2 separate regions of the Homo sapiens genome follow, and region 2 is linked to region 1. A link means that fine-mapping ties the variant in region 1 to the expression of a gene that starts in the linked region. Tissue or cell type: macrophages. Region 1 holds a variant in brackets; the other region holds the start of a gene. All regions are shown on one strand. Distances are between the middles of the regions.

Evidence for each region. PIP is the estimated chance that this variant, and not a neighbour inherited with it, causes the effect.
Region 2: LINC02762 starts here. The variant in region 1 is fine-mapped to the expression of LINC02762 in macrophages (Nedelec 2016, PIP 0.95).

What each region holds. Positions count from the first base shown.
Region 1 is chr11:112,521,350-112,529,470 of GRCh38, forward strand. All of the region lies in intron 2 of LINC02763 (long intergenic non-protein coding RNA 2763), which reads left to right. Among named protein-coding and RNA genes, the nearest start is that of LINC02764, 30 kb to the right of the region's middle. The variant C/T (reference allele first, on the strand shown) is at 4,055.
Region 2 is chr11:112,266,691-112,274,794 of GRCh38, forward strand. LINC02762 (long intergenic non-protein coding RNA 2762) reads left to right here and starts at 4,059. Exons shown (of 4, transcript NR_126004.1): 1 at 4,059-4,093. It also overlaps the pseudogene ST13P10.

The DNA.
Region 1 (8,121 bases):
TCCTTTCTATCTTCTTATTTGTGGATGAGGAAACAAAGGCTTATAGAGATTATGTAACTGGCAAGTGATGGCATTATAGCTCAAGCCTACATGATTCCAATTGCAATACAGGCTTGCCACCTTACAATCTTACCTTTCTTTGAATGAATGAATAGGTGAATCTTTTGTCACTTTGTTCTGAGGTGATCCATTGACTTTTAGAGTCCTAGGACCCTACATCCCTTTGGGCAATCCCACTGTCTATCATCCTATGAAGAGGCCAATCCTCGTACGGGAGATGGAGAATGGGCCAGGTGGGCTTTTGACTTGGCAGTGGGATATAAAGGCAGGTGGCAGAGGCAAACATAAGAAACAGGTCCCTCTCTTTGGGTCTGGGGGAGTCAGGAAACTATGTATACCTCAGCTATGGGAGGTGTGCTCCAGGACTCTGTGCTGGACAGAAAGCTTGTCCTTGTAGTATGACACAGACCAGGACCTGGGTGGGGGACACCACCACTATAAGACACCACTATCGTCTTAGGGCTTCAGCTCTGAGAGGAGCTCTCCGTAACATCCAGGTGTGGTAGGCTAAAATAATGGCTCCCCAAAGATATCCATGTCCTCGTCCCTGGAACAAGTGAATATTACTTTATATGGCAAAAAAAGGCCTTTGCATATGTAATTAAGGATTTTAAGAAAAAGAGATTATCCTGGATTGGTTAGGTGGGTCCTAAAAACAATCATATGTGTCCTCCTGAGAGGGAGGAAGAGGGATATTTGACATTTAAAAAAAGGAGAAGGCAATGTGACTGTAGAGGCAGAAATTTAAGTGATGCAACCACAAGTCAAAGAATGCCAGAAGCCACCTGGAACCGGAAGAGACAAGGAAGGATTCTCCCCTAGAGCTTCTGGAGAAAGCATAACCCTGTCAGCACCTTGATTTCAGCTCAGTGATACTGGCTTCAGACTTCTGGCCTTCTAGAACTCCAGAATGAAGAGAATAAATTTCTATTGTTTTAAGTCATCAGGTTTGTGGTAATTTGTTAGGACATCCATAGAAAACGAGTATGCCAAATTTGTTTCCTTTGTTATAATATTTTTGTTATCTCTAAGTCTTCAGCAAAGTTTTGTTAAGCATTAAAAAAGACAAGAGAAAAAAATTGCGATGAGAGCTGGAGTTTCTTCAGAATTATCTGGTTGAGAAATTTCTTGGGGTACATATACAACTCATTATAATAACTTCAGGGTGGCAAATTTAGGATTAGGTCTTAATGCATATTTAAGAAAACACTCAAATACTATATAGCTTAAATAAAGGAGAAGTTTTTTTTTTTTTTTTGCATAAAACAAGTCTAGAGTTAGGCAATCCCAAGCTAGTGGGGGCAGCCAGCAACACAGAGTTGTCAGGAACCAGTTCCCTTCTAATTGCTCAAGTGTACAGTCCACATCCTCGTGGTCCAGGATGACTGCTAGAGTTCCAGGCATCACATCTGAGTTCCAGAAGCAGAATGGAGAAGGCAGAAAGAAGGGTCCACCTTCTCACTCTTAAGGAGGCTTCCAGGAAGTTTCTCACACATTTCTGCTTATGTCTCTTTGGCTAGAAATTAGTTACATGTAACACAGCTGCAATGGATGATTGGAATTGGACTGTTTTACCCAGGTGACAGTATGCCCAGCTAAAAAATTAGATCCTGTTGATGAAAAGAAGGGGAAATGGATATTTGGAGGCAACTAGCCATTTCTATCTCACCAACTATTCAAGTTCTAGACAGTGAGGGGGAGGGATATAAGTTAAATTATAATTAACTAATGTGTGGGCTTTTTTTTTTTTTAAGACCTCACCTGAAGTAGATTTTAGTTCTGATGCTGCAGTGTAGTCTAACGTTTGTTTGTGTAAAGTATCCAGGCAACCATGGATAGAATGGCTGTGGGTCTGAAAACCATAAGGAACAGGAGAGGAAACAGGTTGTTTAGGTGAAAAAGAGTTTTTTTTTTTTTATAAGGACAAAAAGATCTGTTTTTCAATAAATTCCTGTCCTATGGATGTGAAAATGAACTACATCTGTGATAAGATAGAAGGGGAATGGGGTGGAAGGGAGGCCAATTTTAGCTGAATAGGGAAAAGAAATTTCTAACAACTGAAAAGCCGGCAATGGTACAGCTGCCTCTCAGAGACGTGACTCCCTTTCTGGGCTGGGAGCTGCGGGGGTGCTGGGAGTGAGCCTAAAGCAGGGGCTGGACTGGATGACTTCCCTCTGATCACATGACTCAGTGGGGAGGCCCTCTAGGAGCTTGTCAAAGATCACAGTGGAGGACACAGCACCGTGGGGGACTGTGTCTAATTAAGAGACAAATGAATGAGGCTGTCAGGGAGAGGGAAATTTCCATGCCCCAGGGTAACAAAGCTACAGTTGCTGCTGGGCTAAGGCCTGGAGGTCTGTGCCAGCTTCCCAAAAAAAGAATGTAGGGAGTGTGGCTTAAGCTTGGTGCCCAGCCCTGAATCTGGACAGCCCAAGGTGGGAGGGGCCCAGGACAATGGGATGGCGGGGCCTCATTTTATTTGCCTCCTGCTGTGCTTAACTTGGTAGGGGCAGTTAGACAGTTCCCAGCATCTTCTGAGACAAGCCTGGCAATCCGAGGGTGTCAGGGCCAAAGATGAGGGCTGGAGGGGAGAAAAAACCTGGATCTTTTGTCTGTATCTATATGGAATTACAGACTAAAGTCTTCTGGACTTCATGCTGAAGCTTCTCCAAAAGGCTGTGACTTGGTGCATGACTGTAGGCTATTTTGTGGATGTTTGAATGATGTTAGCTCTGTTGTGGGGTAATCATAGGTCATGCACTAACAAGAGCTGCCTTTCTATCCAGAAGAAGCACAGTGGCTCTCCTTCCATGAAATGATGGCTTGTCCCCACTGTTGTGAGCATACAGAGAACAGGAAACATGTTTAAGGCTCTGTCTCAGGAACCTGTGGTGGTCTGGCCTATTTTGATTGCAAGTGGCAAAAGCCACCCCCCGAACTAGCTTGAGCAGAAAGGGAAATTTCTTGCCCCCTGTCACCAGAAGTAGATCTGGCACAGTGGGTTCAACACCTCGCACTCTGACATTGGAGCTCTCCTCTTGCTCTGCTTGGCATGGTTCTTTTTGCATATTGGCCCAGACTCTCTGACCTCAGCCAAGCAGTCACCTGGAAGAGATGGTTCGGGGAGCTTCAAACTTACAGCTTGCATTCCAGCTACCCCCAGTCACCTGGAAGAGATGGTTCAGAGAGCTCCAAACTCACAGCTTGCATTCCAGCTACCCCGTGTCTTCATCTCCCCTCTGTTCCTTAGCCAGAGGCCAGTTGTCTCCTAGACAAGTGTCCTGACCAGAGGGTCTTTGGAAACAGGAAGACCCTTAGCAGGGAGCGTGTAGAGAAGTCCCAGCATGGTTCTCAGGGTCTTCCATGCCTTCCTTCTTCAGTTCCTCAGGAGTGTGGGAAGGATAATTTGTTTATATGTGACCAGGCACCTTGCCAGTATTTCTGTCAGCAGTGCCAGGGCTCTGGAAGGGCTTAACGTGGCTGCTCCCAAGCCCTGGACAGGAGCTGCAGCCAAGGAACTCATGACATGTCTCTGAGCGGGCCTGAGCTCCTCAGTCTTTCCCGTCACCATTCCTTGTGTTGGCCTGACCTCAGAGCCCTCAAGCTCTGGACCCAGGCATGACCTCGGGCCCTTTGCTTACTGTGTGTCAGCTGCCTGAGGAGGGCCTTTGGTCTCAGCCTGTAGCTGTGGCCCCTGGAGCCTGTTTTGGAATCATCCCAACAAAGACAGCTTTGACCTCTCCCCTGGAGGAAGCTGCTTTGACAAATGCTGAGATGCTGTTTATGCCTTCTCAGGCTGGATTGCAGGGTCACAACCTGCTCCACTTGCCTAAAAAAACATAAAGTCTGAGGTTTCCTTTTGGGACAGGACCAGGGGCACAGGAATTTAAAGGGTTTGGACATATCTATTAAGCAAGAGAGATCTCAGTAAGACTTGACTTCTATGTTGCCACCATGTGTTCCCTGTGGTTTTTGCCTGTAGGAATCGGGGTTC[C/T]TCATGGTAAGCAGTTGAAGCCAATTCTGGCTGACACAGCAGGAAAGGTTTAGTAACAGGATGTTGGGTGTCTCACAGAATCAGCAGAGCCTGGGAAACCAGGCCCCAGGCTACACGTGCAGAATAATGTTCCACTACACGTGGCAGAACTGGCTTAATGAGAAAACTGCTGTGGCACCGCCACTGCCGCCAACTGGATGTTCTAATTTGTATCACAATTTGCCAGGAACATGACCATTGTCACCACTGCTGCCTTCAGTGTCCATGCCACATCTGGCCCCAGAATGTCACCTTATCATCCCAGCAGCTCCTCAGCCACCTGCTTATGTCTTAGCTGCAAAGGAGGCTGGGAAAGTGACTGTTATTGTTTCTACTTTTAGGAGGCAGGATGCATAGGATGGAAAATTCCTCTAATGTAAGAAGGGTGTTTAAAGGGGCTGGGCAGCCAGGAAACTTGACAACGGCCCACCATACCAGCTGTGTAAGGTGTGTACCGCAACTTTGAGGGGAAGCAGTTTGCATGTAACTCAAGGGTGCTGCCTGAGATGGCTGATGCAGTGACCGCATCCTCAGAGGGGAGTCATAGAGGAGGAGAGCCCTCCAGGGTCAAGTCATAAGTGAGAAACACAAGTTCCTGGTGCAGTGATGGGAGGTGGGGGCTTGCAAGGCAGTTTCAGTGACGGTGTCTGGTGTCTTTCCTTTCTGCATCTCCAGGGAAAGATGAGATTTGCTGTGAGTCACTCTAGTTGGTCCTAGCTTCCAGCCCTGGGTTGCTAGACTAGATTAGCAGACTTTCCAGAGTGTGTTTTCCTTAGAGTTGATTGAAGCAAAATGCTGGGCACCCGTCTAGGATTCACCTAGAAGGAATCAAAGGAGAAAGGCAACAGAGTCCAAAAGTGGGACTTAACCCAGCAATGTAATCTGTTTTAAAAATAACTTCTTCCTGTCACTCTCAGCAAGATGTGGCTCCCACAGAGCCTTGCTTGGGGTCTGGGCTATCCAATACCTAAAACGGGTTTCCAAAAATAAAGCTGACATTTATTGAGTGCCATGTGTCAGGCACTTTATGGAAGGCTTACACAAATTATCTGAGTTAATCCTCACAGAAACACCATGAAGTATGAGCTATTATTACCCCGTTTTACAGTTGAGGAAACTCAGGTTTAAAGAGGATAAATAACTCCACTAATGGTTAATTAACCAGTATCAGAGCTGGGATTTGAACCTTAGCAGCCTGACCTCAAAGCCCACGTTGCTAAATTGTCTCTCTAGAATCTTGAGCTAGAAAGTAACTTGACCTCCCCAACATGAGGTTTACATTCTGCTTGGCTCTTCTAGAGTTCAGTCTAAATCAAAGTTAGAAAAAGCTATGCTGGGTAGACCTATCTGTGCTAGGTCCTGCACACAAATATGTAATCTAAACTTCTGGGTGGGGCAGCCCCTTCCTTAGTCACACAGCCCATCATCCTCAGATGCTTCAATCTGAGGTCTGACTAAGTCAGCAAGTGCGAGCAAAGGGTGACCAGGGTGTTGAGCTGAGACTGCAGGCAACACCTCCCTGTAGGGGTGTGAGGCTCTCACTATCTACAGGAGAAGCAGGAAACTGCCCACATCAGCAGGAGACTCCAGATGTCTAGGGAAGAAGGAAAAGAGAGAATCATTGAAAAGGAGATAAATGGAGAACAGAGGGCTGACTGGGAAAGAATGAGGATCCCCCAGGGATGTCTCAGTGGGCTGGAGGAGTGCCCTCAGACTGGATTAGACTTCTCTCTGGACCCCCTCCCTCCACATGCTTTCTGATTGTGTCTTTGGGTGGTTGCAGCCTCTACCAGATGACTGCACATTACACAATAACAAGGGCGAGTTGTGGGATCCTCCCTGTGGTAAGTGCTCAGTGCATGTTTGTTTACTGAGATGAATAAATGAGTCCTATCCTAGGGACAGCAGGGATTTGGGAAAGTGGAGAGAAATCCAGCCTGAGGAAGGAAATCCTTAAAAAACAAAAGTCCTCTTTGAGATTAGGTTCTACGTCCAGGCTAGGCAGAGGCAGTCCTGGAGAGGTGAACACCTGGCAGGTGGCTATGCTGCCTGCTGGAGGGTCCACCACAGAGCCCTTCCCACTCCATGGAGGCTGCTCATGCTCTGTGAGCCCCTGGGTAACAGCCTGCCTGGAGCCAGGAGCTGAGGCTCTTTCCATTCTTGCTTCCAGGGAAAGAAGTGGGTGAACTCTCTGCTCCGGAGTCTGAAAACTGTCAGGAAGGGAGGCATAAGTGGCACCAGGGGTGGAGAAATATGGAACATCAGGAGTCATCCTGGTATTTTGGAAGAAGCTTCAGTGTCAGAGCAGAGTCATCCATTCAGTAGACATTTATTGAGCGTTTAGGCTATATCAGACATTGTGCTAAACACAGAGGGGTGAGTGAGACAGACAGCCCCTGCCTTTGTAACGGTTATAATCGGGTAGAGAAGACAACAAATCCACACTTACAATGTAGTCTGAAAGAATTATTTTGGGGTGCTATGGGAGACAGAAGATAGCCATGGAATCCAGATTTGGGGTTGCTGGGTAGTGACATCTAAGCTAAAACTGTGAGTAGGAATTGGCTAGGAAAAAGGAAGTATTATGGCCTGAATGTGTCTCCCCAAAATTCCTGTGTTGAGATCTAACCCTCAATGTGATGGAATTAGGAGGTGGGGCTTTTGGGAGGTAATCAAGTCATGAGGGCAGAACCCTCATGAGTGGGGTAAGTGCCCTTATAAAAGAGGCCGCAGAGAGCTGCCTTGCCCCCTTCCACCAGGTAAGGACACATGAGACACATGCCCTGTATGAACCAGGAAGCCAAACCTGTTGGCACCTTGATCATAGACTTCCCAGCCTCCAGAACTTGGAGAAATAATTTTCTCCTGTTTATAAGCCATCTGGTTTATGGTCTTTTCTCATAGCAGCATGAACTGACTAAGAAAGGCAGAAAGGGAATAGGAAGGTAGTTTCAGACAGAGGGAGTAAAAACCTGACCTATTAAAAGGATCTGAAATAGCCCAGTCTGGCTGAATGTGAACTCTCAATGGAACAATGGTGAGAGATGTGTCTGCAAGACCTGGTCCGCCATGATGAGGAGCTTAGGCTCTGTCTTGATATAAACTGAAAAAAGCTGTGGCTCTGTGTTTCTTAGTTTCTGTATAGAGCTGCATTTGGAGAAGAGCAAGCCAACCAACAAATAATAATTTGATTTAAATCTGTATTGAGATCTCTTAAAGAATGCTAAGAGGAATCCATTTCACCCACATACCACTTCTCAGAAATCCCCCCTTTTCCTCCCTAATTGTCTCACTTCCCACAGCTCCCAAATCCCAAACTGTTTCTCCAGCCCTACTCACTTGGTTTCCTTCCTCTCTCTTTTGCCCCCTGCCCCTCGCCCCTAGCCAATGCTGTGTGAATCTAATGACTGAGTCAGCTTAAAACAACATTAACTCAGAGCTTAAAACATGAGCTTGATAAACCTTTCTCATCCTAACAGCAATTCCTGATTTTACGTGTGTCCAACCAGCCTTACAAGGGTTGAGGAGGCGGAGTATCTTTGCATTTGGACTTTCTTGAGGCCATCACATACCCTTCTGATGCTTCTACCGTGATCCAGGCAGGGTAGAAATAAAGGTGATCTGAGAAGACCTAACCCAAAGGAAACAAAAATCAGAGCCCAGATCCCCCAGCTGAGCCATTAAACCAAAGGGGCTGGGAAGAGACAGTAAATCCAGACATGAGGCCATTGGATAGAAATGGGAAATGACATGAAAACGAAAACCACTTCAAAATGAAAAAGATGGAGCCAGGAAAATTTCCCTGTACTGAGGAGGGTAGCACCAGAATTTTTCCAAGGCAACTGCAGCCTCATGACCTGTGATGGAGGGAAAGAAGGCTGGTGATGGTAGCCAGCCAGCCTGCTGAGTGGCCCGTGATTGTACATTTCAATTCCTGCAGACAGAGAAACAAGGATAGAGAAAAAAGAAGGGGAAAGGAGGTGAAAGAAGGTGAAAGGGAAGGGAGGAAGGCAAGACGGAAGCCGAAG
Region 2 (8,104 bases), 250 kb before region 1:
GTTTACCTGTTTTCATGGAATGACAGAGATGAGGGCAAAATTATGACAGTTTTTATAAAGAAAGAAATGTTGATTTGGTTTAAAGCCTGCCTTTTATTTTGATGTTATAGCTTTCTGATGTTTTGTTGTTCTTTCTTTTATGAAACTATAGTCATTGTAGATTATAGATGGTAGATTTTCCCCTCCTTCACCTATTTATTTACTTATTTTTTTATGTTTGCCTCGCACTAATAAACTTCTATTTTGCTCAAATTAGAGCAGTAATCTTCCATACATAAGTATCTTCCCTGCCCAATAATTTAAAGAAAAAATCCAAAATGATTAGTAAAGAAAAATATAAGAATTAACCGTCCCTTTAAATTTGTTTTAAATATTTTTAAGGTTTAAAAAGGGTTTAAAGTTTGTAATTCCTAGTAGGAAAATATTATCTGAATGAATACCCTAATGGCAAACCATGGTAAATGCTTCAGCTGCATTTGGGGGAGAGGGATATGGATTATCTTCAAAGCACCCCTGAGGTACGCTGGTTTGTATTATTGCAACATCCATAAGGTGATCTAGGTTGCTTTTCCTTCAGCACGGTCTTTATCAGAAGGACATTACTCTTGACCTCCAAATTTGGCTGACAATTTACTGATAAGATTCATAACCTTTGGGTTGCCCTGGTATTGTGACATATTTGCTGGGTTTTGAGCCACATCCTGGAAGAGGCCACCATAACTTTGGGATCCTGCACGGCTGCAAGAACCTCTGGATCACTAAGAATTTCATTGAGTCCAGTTATTCCGGCCATCCCAGGCATGCCCCCTCTCATTCCAAGCATTCCCCCAGGAAGTCCATCTGGAAAAGAGCCATACTGAGCTACTGACTGTCGTCTGGCTTCTTCCTCCCTCTGGGCTCTCTCTTGCTCTTCTCGAGCCTTCTTAACTCTTTCTATTCTTTCTTTGATCTCTCGCTCTTCACGTTTTTGCTCATACTTTCTCTGATGTTCCGCAATGTCTGTGCCCTAGGCTGAACTTCTTTCAGCATTGCACTAGCATCTTCATCATAATCCAATTTACAGGCAAGGGCAAGATCATGGGCTGCTCCTTCCCAGTGGCCTAGAAGTCTGTGTGCTTTACCTCGCCACTTGTAAGGCTGAGCTGAAATAAATTTCAACGGCTCTGTCACAGTCTCGGATGGCAGCATTTGGCTTCTGTAATTTGATGAAGACACTGGCCCTCTTGGCATACAAAATGGCCAACTGAGGATTCAGCTTGATGGCATCTGTGAATAAGTCAATGGCTTTCTGCAGTTCACCATCATTTAGGGCTTCAATAGCAGCCACTTTCTTATGATTTGCCTGATCCATCATCTCCTCTGTTATCTCTGCATTTTCATCTCCCATTTCTTGAGGGGCATCAGGGTCTGGTTCAATCACATCTTCATTATCAATTAATAGATTACTTTCCTCACTTGATGGTTCGTCTGCCTTTAAGTCTTCCTCCACCTTCTTACTATCAGGTTTTTCTTCCTTGGTATTTTCTTCTGATTTAACTTTCTGAGTAGCAGGTGATAGTTTACCCCCCATGCTCTCCACCCACTCCCTCAGGAAGTGCATTTCCTTGGTGTGCAGAACGCTCAGATCCTGCTTACACATTTTCACAAAAGCCCGAAGTGCATTCACTTTGTGGGGGTCCATGGTCGGGAGGCGGTGGACGAAGCTGAGGGGCCGTGGCCCGGTTCCAGGCCTAGGCACTGGCTCAGTGTGACTGCGCAGAAGGGGGCACCTATTTATTTTTTAAATGTCCTTATTTAACAAAATGAAAACGTAGCACCTATCTAGGTGCCTAAAATCCAAAGTTTTGAAACCAGAGATCTAAAAAGATTTAGTTTGCATCGTAACTTCCAGAAATGCCTTGCATTACTGTGGCAAAAAGCAGGAATTGCTAGCATTTAAGTAGGAGTAGGGAGGTTACGTCTCAAGAAGGGTGTTCAAGGACCCCTTTCTCACTGAGTAGGAGGTCAGATCTTTTAAGCTTCTCTTCCCAACATTAGAATCAGTCATCCCCCCAAAATTGGACATTTATTTCAGTCACTTTTAGGGAGAGATCAGTGTTGAGGGCACTTAGTGGTAGAGTGAGAGCAGGGGTTGGTGGGTGAGAAAGTGAAACTGGACAAGAGAAGTTGGGACTCAGAGCTTCCCAGTCCCCAAACAGAAGAGGAACTGGGAAGGTATTTCCAGCTGCGGAAGAGGAAGGTTTGGACACTCTCTTTACATGGCTAGTGTGGCTTCTTCCTTTGAGAGGAAAGAATTCTCTGCTTGAGAGGAAACCCACTGCAGGAACCTGAAGAGAACTAAGCCCACCTAGGTCAGTAACTGGAAACAAGTGGCTCTTCCTCTGTCCTGCATAGCTACACTTAGAAATTTCATGGAAAGGTGTGACATTTTATCAAGACATTTGGCTGCATTGCTCCTGCTGTTTAACCAGAGGATTCAGCAGCAAACAAAATAAGACAAAACAAAACAAAAAAACCAGGACGGTTTAATGAGTGGGACATGAATTGGAACAGGCAGGATGAACTGTGGGTTCCTGTGGTGGTCTGACAAGGATGTGACGAGGACACCTTTCCAGGGGCAAAGTCAAGGCCATGTGCTCTCACAGGAAATTCCCTTCGGTTAAGTTCCTGAAGAGTGTATTGATTTTCTGATACCCTGCCTTATTCAGGTAGGACTTAAAGCAGCTTACAGGAAAACAAGATTTAAAATGTAAGAAGTTAAGGATATAGGGAAAAGAAAGGTAGAGCAGAATGATAAGAGAAAGGTGGGGTTTGTGATCGTGGGAATTTCCGTGCTGGCATCTCCGTGTTGGTTCTGTTGTTGCAGGTACTGGGAGGAGGAGATGAACCCTGCTCCTGTGGAGGCTATGAGGTATTGATGTCGTGTACACATCCAAGGGGTGGTCTAATTATTTACAACTAGGCTCCTGAAAATCAGCCCTGAATCCAGCTTTCTACCTTCTCTTTTCAATATCATTTAATTAATTGAGTCACAGAAACAGCCTTTAATTCATTTAATTCCCTTACATTCTTCTAACTTCTGCCATATATCTCGTGATCTGTGATTTTTCCTTTTGCACTGATTTGATACTATGTAGTAGCAACTAAATATCGTTACTTATACCATAGCAGCTAATCTTTCTTATCAACAAAAACAAATAATGTCCACATTCCTGAAAACAATTAGGCTCTATTTCTAGCCTTGTGAACAAATGCAATTTTGTCACTTACATAATTTGTTATTGATAGAGTAACTTCAGAATTATTTGTAGTACTGCTTCCTGAGACATATAAAATCATATTAATGATTTTTAATAGCAATCAATAATAACATTTATTAAATACCCACGGTGCTTCGAATCTTTCAGTTGGTCAGTCAGCATTTATGTTCTTAATATCACTCCCAAAGCGTCATATAAACAACTTCTTTTTTTTTTTTTTGAGAGGGAGTCTCACTCTGTCACCCAGGCTGCAGTGCAATGGCACAATCTCAGCTCACTGCAACCTCCGCCTCCTGGGTTCAAGCGATTCTCCTGCCTCAGCCTCCCGAGTAGGTGGGATTATAGGCACCTGCCACCACACCGGGCTAATTTTTGTATTTTTAGTAGAGACGGGTTTTCACCATGTTGGCCAGGCTCATCTCAAACTCCTGACCTCAGGTGATCCGCCCGCCTCAGCCTCCCAAAGTGCTGGGATTACAGGCGTGAGCCACTGCACCCAGCCCATAAAAACAACTTCTAACCTCAGGAAGCCTACACTCCAATGGGAAACCAAGGGTGACCCCAGACCAATTTATGCGACTGCTTTATTTCCTTATCCACAAAGTGGGGAGAATGACAGTGCCCATCTCATAAGGCTGTTGGGAACTTTTAACGACATAATACTTGTGGAGCGTGATGGCTGGCATAGAGAAAGCACTGGATAACTGCTTGTTTTCCTTCTTCTTGTTATGATTGGAGAGATTCCGCGGAGGTGGTGCCTGGGAGCTGGCCACACCTCCCCCAGAGGGAATTTCCGAGTTTCACAGGTTTCTCTCCCTTCTGAGCAACGGCAGGTGAGTCAGGGTCGCTTGTGCTCCCCTCCAGCTCTGGGATGTATGCTGTCCAGCTGGTTACGAGTCTCCATGGCATCCGAGGAAAAGTGGAGCTGGCTGAAGGGAGGTGGAAAAGAAGGGCAACAAATTCCAGTTTCTTGTGAAACTTTGTAAACGTAAGGCTCTTATCTCAGTCTGCAGAGCAGAAACAGGGTGAGGGCCATGGATCTGAATGTCTCCACCTGTGCATAAAACATATGATTAGAGCTGAAGACCTAGAAGTCCCTTCCCCAGGCAGGGCATGAACTCTTCTGTTTCTAGAACCATTTAGGGAGGTGACAACTTGGCTTCGTCCCAGAGATTCAGGTGAGGACAGAACAGAGGGCAGGGTGTTCTTGCCCTGAGTTCCCCGCTAATGAGCTAATCCTGGCCCTTCACCTTTGTTTGGCATGAAGTTTACCAGAAAAGGGCATCCTGCCTTTATCCTTGGTTCTCTATACCCTCGCTACTTTTCCTGTGTTTTGTAAACACGGGATGGTGTATTTAGCTTTCTTTTGCTGGAATTATTTTCACCCCATGTCCTGTGTCTTCCTTGTCCAGAAGAAATCATCTTCTAGCCTAAGAGCTCCAGAGAAGGGTGTGCAGGGGACGGCCATGTTCTGATGCATGCATTCAGCTGTGTCGAACAGTCTTCCTGTTTTGCTACTGTCTGAGAATATTCTTTTCATTCTGTGGGCTCCTGGGCCTGGGCTTTCCTTGGCTTATCTCAGGAATCTGCCTCTTGGTCCCTTTCATTGGCTGCCTTCTATGTTTAGGTTTGTAGGGGAAGGCCCCTGGAAGGTGGGTGGGAGAAGAGGCACCTCTCAGGAGAGGCTGAGGCGCAAAGATGCTCTTGTCCACTCAAGTCCATATTTATTTATCTTCTAATATACTTTGTTTGTTAGTTTGTATGCTTGTTTGTTTTGAGGGTCTCCTTCTGTTACCCAGCCTAGAGTGCAGTGGTGCCATCATGGCTCACTGCAACCTCAATCTCCGAGCTCAATTGATCCGCTTGCCTCAGCCTCCTGAGTAGCCAGGACTACAGGTGAATGCCACCATGCCTGGCTAATTTTTTTTTTTTTTTTTTGTAGAGGGTTTTTTCCTGTTGCCCAGGCTGGTCTCAAACTCCTGGTCCCAAGTGATCCGCCTGCCTTAGCCTCCCAAAATGCTGGGATCACAGATGTGAGCCACCCTGCCTGGCCTTCTAATATAATTTGGATATTCCATGGATATTCCCACCTTGATCTACATTAGGAACTTCCTGGAGGCTTGTGCTCAAGAGAGGTAGTATCTGCTTGCTCAGCAAGCAGAGGCTGAGTAAGTGCAGGACTCTGAATATGGTTGTGCAGCAGAGTTGTGGGTATTTGTGGGGACGTTGACCTCAGGCCCAGCATTTAGATTTAGCTAGCAGACATGCCTGGGCAGCTAAACTGGCAATGTCAGACCAAACTGCCTGGCCTGATATTGCCAGGCAGTTTAGCGTATCAGGGCTCTGCTTAGAAGCCACAATGCCAAGGCCTCATGACCATATTCTTCCACCCTTGAGAATCTTGTCCACCTTCATATCCCTCCATTCCTCACGCATCATGTCCTGGGTGGGTGCCCTGACACCTCATTCTCACCTCCATCTCCTTGCTCACTCATGTTTTCCAGGTTGTACTTGAGAGAGCCTAGGCCTTAGCGGTAGAGTTGGTTTCAAGTTGCTGCCCTCCCATCCCCTGGAATGTAACTGGCTTTCTGGGACTTAGTTTTTTTCATTTGTAATGCCTGCCTTGTAGTCCCATTGTGAAAATTAATCAATAATTTGTTTTGAGGGTCCAATATGTGGCAGGCATTGTGGTAAGCTTTAGGGCAGGGGCATAAAGACCAGTTAAGATTTCTCCTTTTTAAAACTTTTATTTTTTTGTAGAGATGGAGTCTTGCTATGTTGCCCAGGCTGATCTTGAACTCTTGGCCTCAAGTAATCCTCCTACCTGGGCCTCCCAAAGGAATTACAGAATGAGCCACCATGCCTGGCTTATCCCTCTTTTTGAATAGCTTTTGGTTAGTGTTAAGAGGCAGGTTCATAAACATAATTTCAAAATAATGCGTAAATGCTAAGATAGAGGTAAGCCTTAGGAGTACAAAAGAAGGGAAAGAATGCTTTTTGGGTAAATGGTGGATGAGCTGGTTTTCTTTCTCTTTCTTTCTTTCTTTCTTTCTTTCTTTCTTTCTTTCTTTCTTTCTTTCTTTCTTTCCTTCTTCCTTCCTTCCTTCCTTCCTTCCTTCCTTCCTTCCTTCCTTCCTTTCTTTCCTTCCTTCCTTCCTTCCCCCCTCTCTCTCTCTCTTTCTTTCTTTCTTCTCTCTCTCTCTCTCTGGAGTTCAGTGGCGTGAATCATAGTTCACTGCAGTCTTAAACTTCTGGCCTCAAGCAATCCTCCTGCCTCAGCCTCCCAAAGCACTGAGATTACAGGTGTGAGTCACTGCAGCCATCCTGGATGAACTGTTTTGAAGGATAGGGGTAGGTTGGGGTGAATGTTCCTGGAAGAGAGAAGTGTGGAATTACAAAACAGTGTGATGTGAGCAGGGAACAATGAAAAGGTAATGTTCAAGAAAAAGAGTGACAGATGCTGTTGCTGGCAAGTAAATAGGGGCCAAGTCATGCTAGGTCTTATAGGTCATGCTAAGCATTTTGAATTCTATCTGTAGGCAACAGAGTTTTATTTTTATTTGTTTATTATTTTTATTTTTTTCACCCGGAGGTGAAACAATTTTATTTCACAGTTGCCTTTAAAACCTCAAAGATACTATTTTCTTCATATAAAAATATTAGTACTGGGGGGAGAGGCCAAGATGGCCAACTAGAAACATCTGTGGTCAGAGGCTCCCACTGGGAGGAACCAAAATGGCAAGTGAATCCTGCACCAGCAACCAGGGTATCCAGGTTCTCTCACTGGGACTGACTAAGCAGTTGATGTGACCCATGAAGAGTGAAGAAAAGCCGGGTGGTGCGACGGCCCACCTGGGAGCCACACGGGGAAAGGGCAGCTCCCACCCCAAGCCAAGGGAGGTGGTTAGTGATCATGCTACCCTGCTAGAAAACCGTACTTTTTCCACGGATCTGCGCAACCCACAGATCAGGAGATCCCACTTTTGAGCTACACTACCAGGGCCTTGGGTCCCAAGCACAGAGCTGTGCAGATTCTCAGCAGCCACTTGACTGGAGACTGCCTAAGACCCCAGTCAAGTGGCTGCTGAGAATCTGCACAGCTCTGTTAAGTTAACTCTGCACAGCTTTGTTAACAGCTCTGTTCTGTTAACTCTGCTAAGAGTTTCCAGGGGGGTGGGGGCAGCCATTATCACTGCAGCTGCCTGCTGCCTAAGATGACTGAGCTCCCCTGAGTTGGGGTGGTGGCCATCATTGCAGCTCATGTCTGCCATTTTTCCCCTGGTGGTTTCATCTAAGCTCATAAGGGAAAGGAATGAGTGGAAGATGTAGGGGAGCTCACTCAGCAGTGGAAGTTTTAAGTGGCAGAGAGGGAAGGTTTGCGATGGAGAGAATAGTGAGAACGGGAGGAGGAGGTTGGAGGAATGTTCTGTGGAGGACAAATGGTGAGACGGGCTTTCTCTGAGGACAATGGTTGTGGTGTGACTAGACTGGCTGGTCCCAAGGGTCCAAAGGGAAGCCACTAGCCTATTAGGGCTGGGCTGGAGCGTACAGGTTCTGGATCTGTAGGTCAGAGGTGGGGGGGTCCAGGAACATGCATTTTTTTTTTTTTGAGATAAGGTTACACTCTATGGCTCAGGATGGAGTGCGGTGATGCAATCACAGCTCACTGCATCCTCGACCTCCCCGGATTCAGGTGATCCTCCTGCCTCAACCTCCCTATAGCTGGGACTATAGGCATGCACCACCACACCTGGCCAGTTTTTGTATTTTTTGTAGAGATGGGATTTCATCATGTTGCCCAGGCTGGTCTTGAACTCCTGGGCTTAACTGACCCACCTGCCTTG